Regions from separate parts of the Homo sapiens genome. Here regions 1 and 2 are each reported to be linked to region 3. Evidence: microRNA targets listed by miRTarBase, many of them from high-throughput screens and not tested one by one. Region 3 holds a microRNA gene; each other region holds the end of a gene's coding sequence.
The links. The annotated mature microRNA hsa-miR-6866-5p reads UUAGAGGCUGGAAUAGAGAUUCU and lies in region 3 at 1,640-1,662, opposite strand. An mRNA with a match to its seed (bases 2 to 7 or 8) in the 3' UTR can be bound and repressed. Matches are read on the target gene's strand: a 7mer-m8 pairs with bases 2 to 8, a 7mer-A1 pairs with bases 2 to 7 and ends in A, and an 8mer does both.

Region 1: miRTarBase lists IREB2 as a target of hsa-miR-6866-5p. Seed matches in the 3' UTR shown: 7mer-m8 at 538-544.
Region 2: miRTarBase lists SRSF3 as a target of hsa-miR-6866-5p. Seed matches in the 3' UTR shown: 7mer-A1 at 679-685.

The regions. Positions count from the first base shown.
Region 1 is chr15:78,497,624-78,500,983 of GRCh38, reverse strand. IREB2 (iron responsive element binding protein 2) reads right to left here. Exons shown (of 22, transcript NM_004136.4): 22 at 1-2,951. The coding sequence ends at 2,841. Among named protein-coding and RNA genes, the nearest start is that of HYKK, 8.3 kb to the left of the region's middle.
Region 2 is chr6:36,601,600-36,604,599 of GRCh38, forward strand. SRSF3 (serine and arginine rich splicing factor 3) reads left to right here. Exons shown (of 6, transcript NM_003017.5): 5 at 109-195; 6 at 363-3,000. The coding sequence ends at 390. Among named protein-coding and RNA genes, the nearest start is that of SRSF3, 8.7 kb to the left of the region's middle.
Region 3 is chr17:40,160,240-40,163,599 of GRCh38, reverse strand. It overlaps MIR6866 (microRNA 6866), which reads right to left and starts at 1,667; the gene lies at 1,599-1,667. It overlaps CASC3 (CASC3 exon junction complex subunit), which reads right to left. Exons shown (of 14, transcript NM_007359.5): 4 at 1,689-1,847; 5 at 1,447-1,598; 6 at 699-875; 7 at 1-119.

The DNA.
Region 1 (3,360 bases), not on the chromosome of region 3:
CTGTGAAAGCAAATGCACACGACCTTGTTACCATATATGCAGGCAACTATGATTCTGATTTAGGTCCTAGCTTTACTTTCCTTTAGTACAACTGTTGTTTGATTACCAACGAAAAACTAAGCAATCTGGCTAGAGGGATACTAGTACCTTCTTTCAAATGTCAGCATGGAGATAAAACAAAATAGTGATAACTGTCATCTTAGAAACTTTTTAGATATAATAATGGCAATTCAGTGGCTGGATGACATTTCCATTGATTCCATTGTATAAGAGTAGCAAAACCCCAAAATATGAAAATGGCAATGATATGTAGCATAATGTTTTCAAAGTATAAAAAAAACCCTGCTGTTGGTAGTGACCTTTGAAATTGTACTTTAAGCTTACAACACTGATTTGCTTTTCTTGTGTGTCTGACATTACACTTCCTTTTTTTTTTTTTTTTTTTGGTAACACAAAATTACCCAAGGTATAGTAAACAAAGAAGACACAGACAATAAAAACTAACAGATGCCACATTTTGCAAACATAGCATTTGGCTAGAGGCAGAATTATAAGGTATACATATTAAAACATACATCCAAGACTCTCCTCCTCAATTTGAAACCATGTTTATCAAGTTTTTACTTCATTGTATATAAGCCAAAAAATTAAGAGAACCTTGATTTGTTCCTGAAATACAAGATTTGCTTGTATTATTACTGGACCAGGTAGACTGGATATGTGAATGTTTAATTCATAGTTAGCTAGCTTTACCATCATCTCCTGAATCAGCTGCTGAGGATGCCTGTGCCTCTGCCCATAACTATATATAGAGTATGCTTTCAAAACAATATAGGCCGGGTGTGGTGGCTCACACCTGTAATCCCAGCACTTGTGGAGGCCAAGGCGGGCGGATCACGAGGTCAAGAGATTCAGATCATCTGGCCAACATGGTGAAACCCCATCTCTACTAAAACTACAAAAATTAGCTGGGCGTGGTGGTGCATGCTTGTAGTCCCAGCTACTCAGGAGGCTGAGGCAGGAGAATCCCCTGAACCCGGGAGGCGGAGGTTGCAGTGAGCCAAGATCGCGCCATTGCACTCCAGCCCAGCCACAGGGCAAGACTCCGTCTCAAAAAACAAAACAAAACAAAATAGATTTGTTTCCCCCTGCACAATCTGGAATTACCATTTCTTCAGAGCACATACAGGCATTTCATCTTTCAACCTGTAATTTCTCCTAACTCATGTTTTCATGTAAATTAAAAACACATGCACTAACAAATAAATATACAGCATATATCAAGAACACAATATAATTTGAAAGTGTCGAAGAAAATACTTATACAAAATTTAAATAAAGAAATCATTTTGTCGAACTCTAGTCCATCTTATTGTCTAAACACATATTTGCAAAATATTTTCAAAAGATTGTATGATTATGTGCAAAGTTCTTAGTGGTCTTCATCCACTGGTTTGGTAGTTTCAGCATTTTGCTTACAACAAGTAATTCTTTATGCAATGTGAACTAATTCTGAATTGCAGTAACTAACTAGGTCATAGAAAGATATCTATGTGAAAAAAAATCACTACAATTAACCTTTAGCCTGCTAGACTTAGTTTCTTAATTAAAAAAACAGTATAGAACCTTCTATAATTAATTTTCCAACCTTTTTAAAAAAAATTACCAAACATCTTGTTGACAGAACATTTGATGTGATGGGCAGACATGCATATTGAGGATATATAGTACTCAGCAACAACTTAAGTGTTTTATCCTTACGGTCAGCTTTGGTTAAAACAGTAACATAACAAAATTAATAGAATCATGCATCGCAGGTGATAAATGATTCAAAATGACAGGAAATCAATTTAATTAAGAAATAGCAACACTTAAAAAATGCATAGGGTTGAGCACCCGTATTATTGAGGGTGGATAATTTAAATGTATAGAAGAAATCAGTTCAGAGTTTAATGATTGAATAACATTCTCTTTAGCAACTATGAGTGTGAAATTTTGGTTAATGATACCGAAAATATTAGGTTATAGGAAGTTACAGTATTACATAAGGTGAGCAAAATAATCTAATCCAATTAATATAACGCCATCTGGGGGCTTGCCAGACAGTCACAGTGGCAAACTGCTGAAATATGAAAGGCTGCATCATATGTGATACATATTCCCACTGCTAATACATGGTGCCACACAATCAGTTGTATCCTGCCATGGTCCATCTTCATATGTGGAGGGAACCTTGGCTGGATTGGACAGAATGATTGTGACCTGGGGCAGGTTCCATCCCTTGCAGTTAGACTAAGGATAAACCTGGTTATATGACAAACTAAGAATGCCAAATGTGTCCAGCTCAATTCTGAAGAGGAATTAATATACTTAAAAGGTCCATTTATAAATGAGATTCCAATGGCCACAATTTTAGAGTCTAATCTGGCTTCTTATATTTCAATCTGCTACTCTTAAACCAACAAACAGTAGTACACAGTTTTATTGGTGCAAAACTAAACAAATCCAGGAAGGTTATTCATATAAGAATCTTCAACACAAATTCTGCCTTTATTTACAAAATGGTCTGATAAAATATCGCCCCCCCCCCATACTTACAGGTCTCTTCCACAACACACTTCACACGTTGATTTTAGCAATATTAATAGCACCATTCGTATATTATTTAAAATCAAGAAGATTTCATTTCAGTTACTATGTTGATTCATCATCATTTACATCCATGGATGAGATAAGTGAGTATACTGGGACTATCTGCTGCTCCATGGTAAGGATTCCTGGGTCCAGCACAAAAGGCTTTGCAGTTACCAGTTATGAAAGGTATCTATGGTAAGTAGATACTATGAGAATTTTCGTGCCACAAAGTTTAATAATCCTCCATGTTTGTATAATGTTATTTCCACATCATCTTCAAACGAAGCAATCACGCTGAATACTTTTCCAGTGCTTGTCTTGAAAGGAGCAAAAACATCTCATGTGAGCAAGTAAATCTTCCAGGTGCTACTTGATGGTTAAGACCATTTGTCTTCATATTTAATGACTATACTTGCCACAGATTCTGTCTGATTTATCTTGGTTCTAATTTCTTATATTCTGATTGCCTGAAACTTTGCTGCTGCTTGAAAAACACCTGAGATACCTGACCATGGGCTTCATAGTTAAGTAGAAAAATAGCTGCATTTAGATTTTGACTTATTAATTGGGGAAGTTATACTCACTACTCACATTCATTTTACACCAAATATTGATTGCATGTAATCAGTAACTCCTACTCTTTCCCCTTTTTTCTTAGTTGTAAAGTCTGTTTTGCTCTAACTTTGAACGCTCAACTTTGCTCTCTTTGGAGTGGTATGTATGCCT
Region 2 (3,000 bases), not on the chromosome of region 3:
TCCCAAAATATTGGAATTATTGGCATGAGTCACCATGCCAGATCAAGAAAATATTTATGTATAATTTTATCATACCTCATTGGTCCTAATGTTTTTTTGCTTGTTTAGGTCCCTTTCTAGAGATAGGAGAAGAGAGAGATCGCTGTCTCGGGAGAGAAATCACAAGCCGTCCCGATCCTTCTCTAGGTCTCGTAGGTAAGATCTTTGATAACTTGTATTTAAGACTTTGCATACATAGTATGCTAAGGCCTGTCTTCTAAGCCATAAATTTTTTACCTTAAAGTTCTATTTCGATATGTCACTAAAGTGTCACCAAGTTACAGATGTAATGTTTTGTTTTCTTTTTTTTTTTTTTTTTTTAGTCGATCTAGGTCAAATGAAAGGAAATAGAAGACAGTTTGCAAGAGAAGTGGTGTACAGGAAATTACTTCATTTGACAGGAGTATGTACAGAAAATTCAAGTTTTGTTTGAGACTTCATAAGCTTGGTGCATTTTTAAGATGTTTTAGCTGTTCAAATCTGTTTGTCTCTTGAAACAGTGACACAAAGGTGTAATTCTCTATGGTTTGAAATGGATCATACGAGGCATGTAATACCAAGAATTGTTACTTTACAATGTTCCCTTAAGCAAAATTGAATTTGCTTTGAACTTTTAGTTATGCACAGACTGATAATAAACCTCTAAACCTGCCCAGCGGAAGTGTGTTTTTTTTTAAATTTAAATACAGAAACAACTGGCAAAAATTGAACTAAGATTTACTTTTTTTTCCATAGCTGGGATATAGGCTGCAGCTATAGTTGAACAAGCAGTCTTTAAAAACTGCTGTGAAACACAGGCCATCAGGGAAAACGAAATGCTGCACTATTAAATTAGAGGTTTTTGAAAAATCCAACTCTCATCCTGGGCAGAGGTTGCCTAGTTGGTATAGAATGTTAAGTTTCAAGAAAGTTTACCTTTGCTTTAGGTCATAAGTTCCTTATTTGATTGCTGTATATGGATACATGGCTGTTCGTGACATTCTTTATGTGCAAATTTGTGATTTCAAAAATGTCCTGCCAGTTTAAGGGTACATTGTAGAGCCGAACTTTGAGTTACTGTGCAAGATTTTTTTTTCATGCTGTCATTTGTAATATGTTTTGTGAGAATCCTTGGGATTAAAGTTTTGGTTACAAATTGTTCTTTAACTTGAAAGCCTGTTTTTCCTTGCAAACTCAAATCTGTGAGCTTGGTACCAAGTCCAGGTATAACATTCCTATTGGAAGCCATACTTATATTTTCTTGTAAAGTGCTTTTGAATTAATAAAATATTAGCATAATTGTGTATAGTCAGTTGAACCCACTGTTACCATTGTTCTTATCCCATGGGAAGCAGTTGGTTACACGATTCTTATTTTATAAGAAACAGCTGAGAGGCACTATGGATTAGTCTTCTGAAGTGAAGGAAATATAGATGTCACCTAAGTGATAGTTAACCCATTTTTTTTTTTTTTAGGCATAGAAGCCAGTTCAGGGTCCATAATATTTAGTGACCAACATTTTAAAGTATAGCAGCAACCTGGTTCTTAAACACAAAGTAAGTTGCCCATTAACAAATGGCTTTTATCTTTAGCATGAAAACTTTCCACAGGTCTAAAAATTGCTTCCATTTTATAATTTGAGGTGTTGCATGGGAATTCTAAGCTGATCCATCATGATGTAAAAGTTCACAATATGGTTCAAATGTAACAGTGCAGAATTGAATATGGAGGCATGCATAACCTTCCTCTTAGAAAATGGCAGGTGTTGTAATTTCAAATTTTTGTGCAATTAGATTAAATCATAATGCAACAGTCTTGTGGCTTAGTTTCCTTAAATATGCTCTTAAGATAGTTTTGGATTATGCGGTATTGACTGTCTTAAATATGAAAGATAAGTCATTGCATTAAGAGTTCAAGCTAAATGGATACATTAAGATACAGTTCCTAAACAAATTATTTATTTCCACCTTTTACACAAATCTTGGGAGAATTGGTGTCAGGAAGGTTCAGCCTTAAAGTTAAGCATGTTCAAGAAAGACACTTTTCAGACAGCCTGTTTATTTACTGAGAGCTCTGGCATTGGGCATTTTGTCTTTAGTATTCTCACATAGCCTACAACCTGTTCCTGTTAGGAACAAGCCAAGATAGCTAAGAAGTTACGGAAGCCATGCAATATGTCAATTACATTGCTTTTTATAAATGGACAACTTATGTGGGCATTTTTGGGCAGTATATGACTTCCTTGCAGGCTCTTAAGTTGGAAGGGTTTCTGTAAAAAGGACAGTTACGGGTATAATATGGCTAAGAGAAATAATACAGAACCTGAAATAAAAGTAACTTCACCAGGGAGTTATCCTGACTTAGGTGACATACAGTCCCAGTTGGCAGTTACTTTAACCAGGAGCCCTAGCATAACCTCAAGACTCTTAGAAACTTTAGAACATGGAAATTGTTAAAAGCTTTGAATTGCACATTTAGATTGTGGCTATTAGGAATTTTTAAAGTTGTAATTCCTAAAATAACAGGTCACACTAACCGGTCTTGTCCATATTCAGGGTTGAGTGTAAAAATGAAAGGAATCACAAAACTGAACTTAGACCTGTGGTTTAAGGATCAAGGTGTTCACTAGAAGTCACTGTTACTAATACTTGATGACAATGTAAAGAAACATTAAGGATTATATTTGATTGTTTTCAAAGACACTGGCTGGATGTGGTGGCTCACACTTGTAATTCCTAGCACTTTGGGAGGCTAGGGCGGGTGGGAGGATCTCTTGAAGCCAGGAGTTGGAGACCAGTCTGCCCAACATGGCAAGATTCACATTTCTATTAAAAGGAATATTTAGTTTGATCTCTGGTTCACAGTTCATTGTGGGTTGCTTCTGACCTCCATGTCTTAAGCAGAAAGTAGGGAAGTTGTAGTTTTACCAAGCACAGGTACCCTGTGTCTACCATTTGAGTATCTTAGAGATCCTTACAAACG
Region 3 (3,360 bases):
CAGCATTCCTGTTAATAAATGTCCTTGGTGGTAGGGTGCCCCCAAGACCCTGGTGGCGATGAGACTTGTTTAGCCGCTCACCGTTCCAGTTTGGATCTCTTTGTGGAGGACTCCCATATCTACAAAAAATGGAATGAAGAAACTGTTAGGAAATTAACAAAAGGAGGCTACGCGCGGTGGCTCAGGCCTGTAATCCCAGCACTTTGGGAGATCGAGACGGGCAGATCACTTGAGGCCAGGAGTTCAAGACCAGCCTGGCCAACATAGCGAAACCTCATTTCTACTAAAAATACAAAAATTAGCCGATCGCGATAGTACGCGCCTGTAATCCTGGCTACTCAGGAGGCTGAAGCAGGAGAATCACTTCAACCCAAGAGGTGGAGGTTGCAGTGAGCCGAGAACATGCCATTGCACTCCAGCCTAGGCAACACAGCGAGACTCTGTCTTAAATAAATAAATAAAAAGAAAAGCAAAGAGAATTCTTTCTAAAAGATATCAAGAGTCTACACTCTATTTTTTTTTTCCTTTTTTTCTTTTTTTTTTTGGAGACAGGGTCTCACTATGTTCCCCAGGCTGGTCTTGAACTCCTGGCCTCAAGCAATCCTCCTGCCTCAGCCTCCCAAAGTGCCGGGATTCCAGGTGTAAGCCACCGTAAGCCACCATACCCAGCCTGGTCTTATGTTCTAAAATGTCCTCACCGGGGTTTCCGGATTCTTCGAGGTTTGATGTCATCAGGATTATGAGCTGAGCGAATGTCATAACCATAAAGAGCAATGAGCTCCTGTCGGGACTTTGGGGCCTGCTCATCTTCCCGGAACTTGTCATGCTCCCAGCGACCCTCATCCTTCCATAGCTTTCGCTGACGCCCCTTGGGTCTGGATAAAATGAAGGAAAAGTGTCTTGGGTCAGCAGAATTCTCCAAGTAGAGATGTTCTTGAACAAAATGGGTCAGGGAGGCAGGGGGACAATAGGAACTTTACGTAGTCTCCTCATCATCCCAAAGAGATTATAAAAAACAGGCCTCCCCAAAGCAAGCGTGAATCACAGAACCTCAGGGCCTGCTGGGCTCAAATATAACAGACACAGAAATGAGAAAAAGACTTCATTTCATGCCATTCAGTACCTTTGAAACATCTCCTTTCTCCTAAAAGGCAACCTATGCAAGTATTTCACTTCTCAGACGCCTTACACCTCAGACTAAGAAAAGCAAAAGTATAATAATTAAGAGAAGATGAGTTCTGGAAACAAACTGTCCTAGGTCTGTATCTTAGCTGCCTCACCAAGAGTTACCAAATATTCTAAGCCTACTTTCCTCATTTGTACGATAAGGATAATCATAATACTTATCTTAAAATGCTGTAATAAATGAAATACAGGCAAATCGAAGTACCTGGCCTACATGTGTAAAATACATGTTAGACAGCAGCAGCAGCAAGTGGCTTTTACCTGACTTCCTCCTCCTGAGTTTGCCCTCGAAGATCATGCTCAAAGAAGAGCCCTTTCCGAGGTATGTATGCTGGATTCTTCCGATCTTCATCATCATCCAAATGCTTAGGGCCCTTTTTACCCACTTTGTTCTCCACAGGCTCTGTGCTCTCCTAGAGGACAGATAAAGGGATCCTTACTCTTCCAAGCCTCAAGAATCTCTATTCCAGCCTCTAAAATGGAGGACTGTGGAATGTACTAACCTGTCCGTCCCCACTTTGCCTCTCTCCAGTCACAGTGCTTTTGGTGTCAGGCTTTTCTTCTCCCTTCTCTTCTTTTGTTGAAGAATTAACAGCATCATTAGCTTCTGATTTCAGCTCCACTTTGGAGTTTTCCTCTTCACTGTATTCACCTTCTTCACCCTGAAAAAAGTTTCCCTGTCAGCGATGCATATAAGATCTGAACGGTGCATTTTAATTCCCACCCCTGCCCCCAACCCCAAAACAAAGTCTCTGTCACCCAGGCTGGAATACAGTGGCACAATCTCAGCTCACTGTAACCTCTGCCTCCAGGGGTCAAGCAATTCTCCTGCCTCAGCCTCCTAAATAGCTGGGATTATAGGCGCCCACTACCGCGCCTGGCTAATTTTTGTATGTTTAGTAGAGACCAGGTTTCACCATGTTGGCCAGGCTGGTCTTGAACTCCTGATTTCGTGATCTGCCTGCCTTGGCCGCCCAAAGTGCTGGGTTTATAGGCGTGAGCCACCGTGCCTGGCTGCATTTCAATTTTCTACTCTTTAGGAATACATTTATCAATAAATTTTTAGTACAACATAGAACTGAAAAGCAAACAAATCAATATTCTTACCCATATTTCTAGAAAATAAAGATCCTATTTTGGCCTGGCACAGTGGCTCACGCCTGTAATCACATTTTGGGAGGCCAATGCAGGCAGATCACCTGCGGTCAGGAGTGTGAGACCAACCTGGCCAGCATGGCAAAACCCCATCTCTACTAGAAATATAAGAATTAGCCGCACTTGGTGGTAGGCACCTGTAATCCCAGCTGCTCGGGAGGCTGAGGCAGGAAAATCGTTTGAACCAGGGAGGCAGAGCTTGCAGTGAGCAGAGACTGCGCCACTGCACTTCAGCCTGGGCGACAGAGCAAGGCTCTGTCGCAAAAAATAGTAATAATAAAAAAAAGACACTATTTTAAAAATATCACATTAAAAAAAATACACACATACATACATATATATCCACATAGGTATTCCTGGAACATATGCAAGAATTATTAAAAGTGGCAGGCTGGGCGCAGTGGCTTACACCTGTAATCCCAGCACTTTGGGAGGCCGAGGCAGGCGTATCACTTGAGGTCAGGAGTTCGAGACCAGCCTGGCCAACATGGTGAAACTCTGTCTCTACTAAAAATACAAAAATTAGCCGGGAGGCGGAGGTTGCAGTGAGCCAAGTTTGTGCCACTGCACTCCAGCCTGGGTGACAAAAGCAAAACTCCATCTCGAAAAAGCAAAACAAAAAAACAAAAAAACAGCGGCAGCCTCTAATGGGCCCAGAGGATAAGAATGGAAGGGAGACTTACTATACGATACCTAACATATAAGAGGAGCTTAATCTTCCTTGATAATCTCTCTCTCCATGAATTATCTTTTTTTTTTTTTCTGTTTTGAGACAGGGTCTTGCTCTGTTGCCCAGGAGTGCAGTGGCACAATCATGGCTTACTGCAATCTCAATCTCCTGGGCTCAAGTGATCCTCCCACCTCAGCCTCCCAAGTAGCTGCGACTACAGGCACATGCCACCACACCTGGCTGATTTTTTTTTATTTTTAGTAGAGACGAGGTCTCGCTATGTTGCCTAGGCAGTTCTCAAACTGCTGAGCTCAAGCAATCCTCCTCCCTTGGCCTCCCAAAGGGCTGGG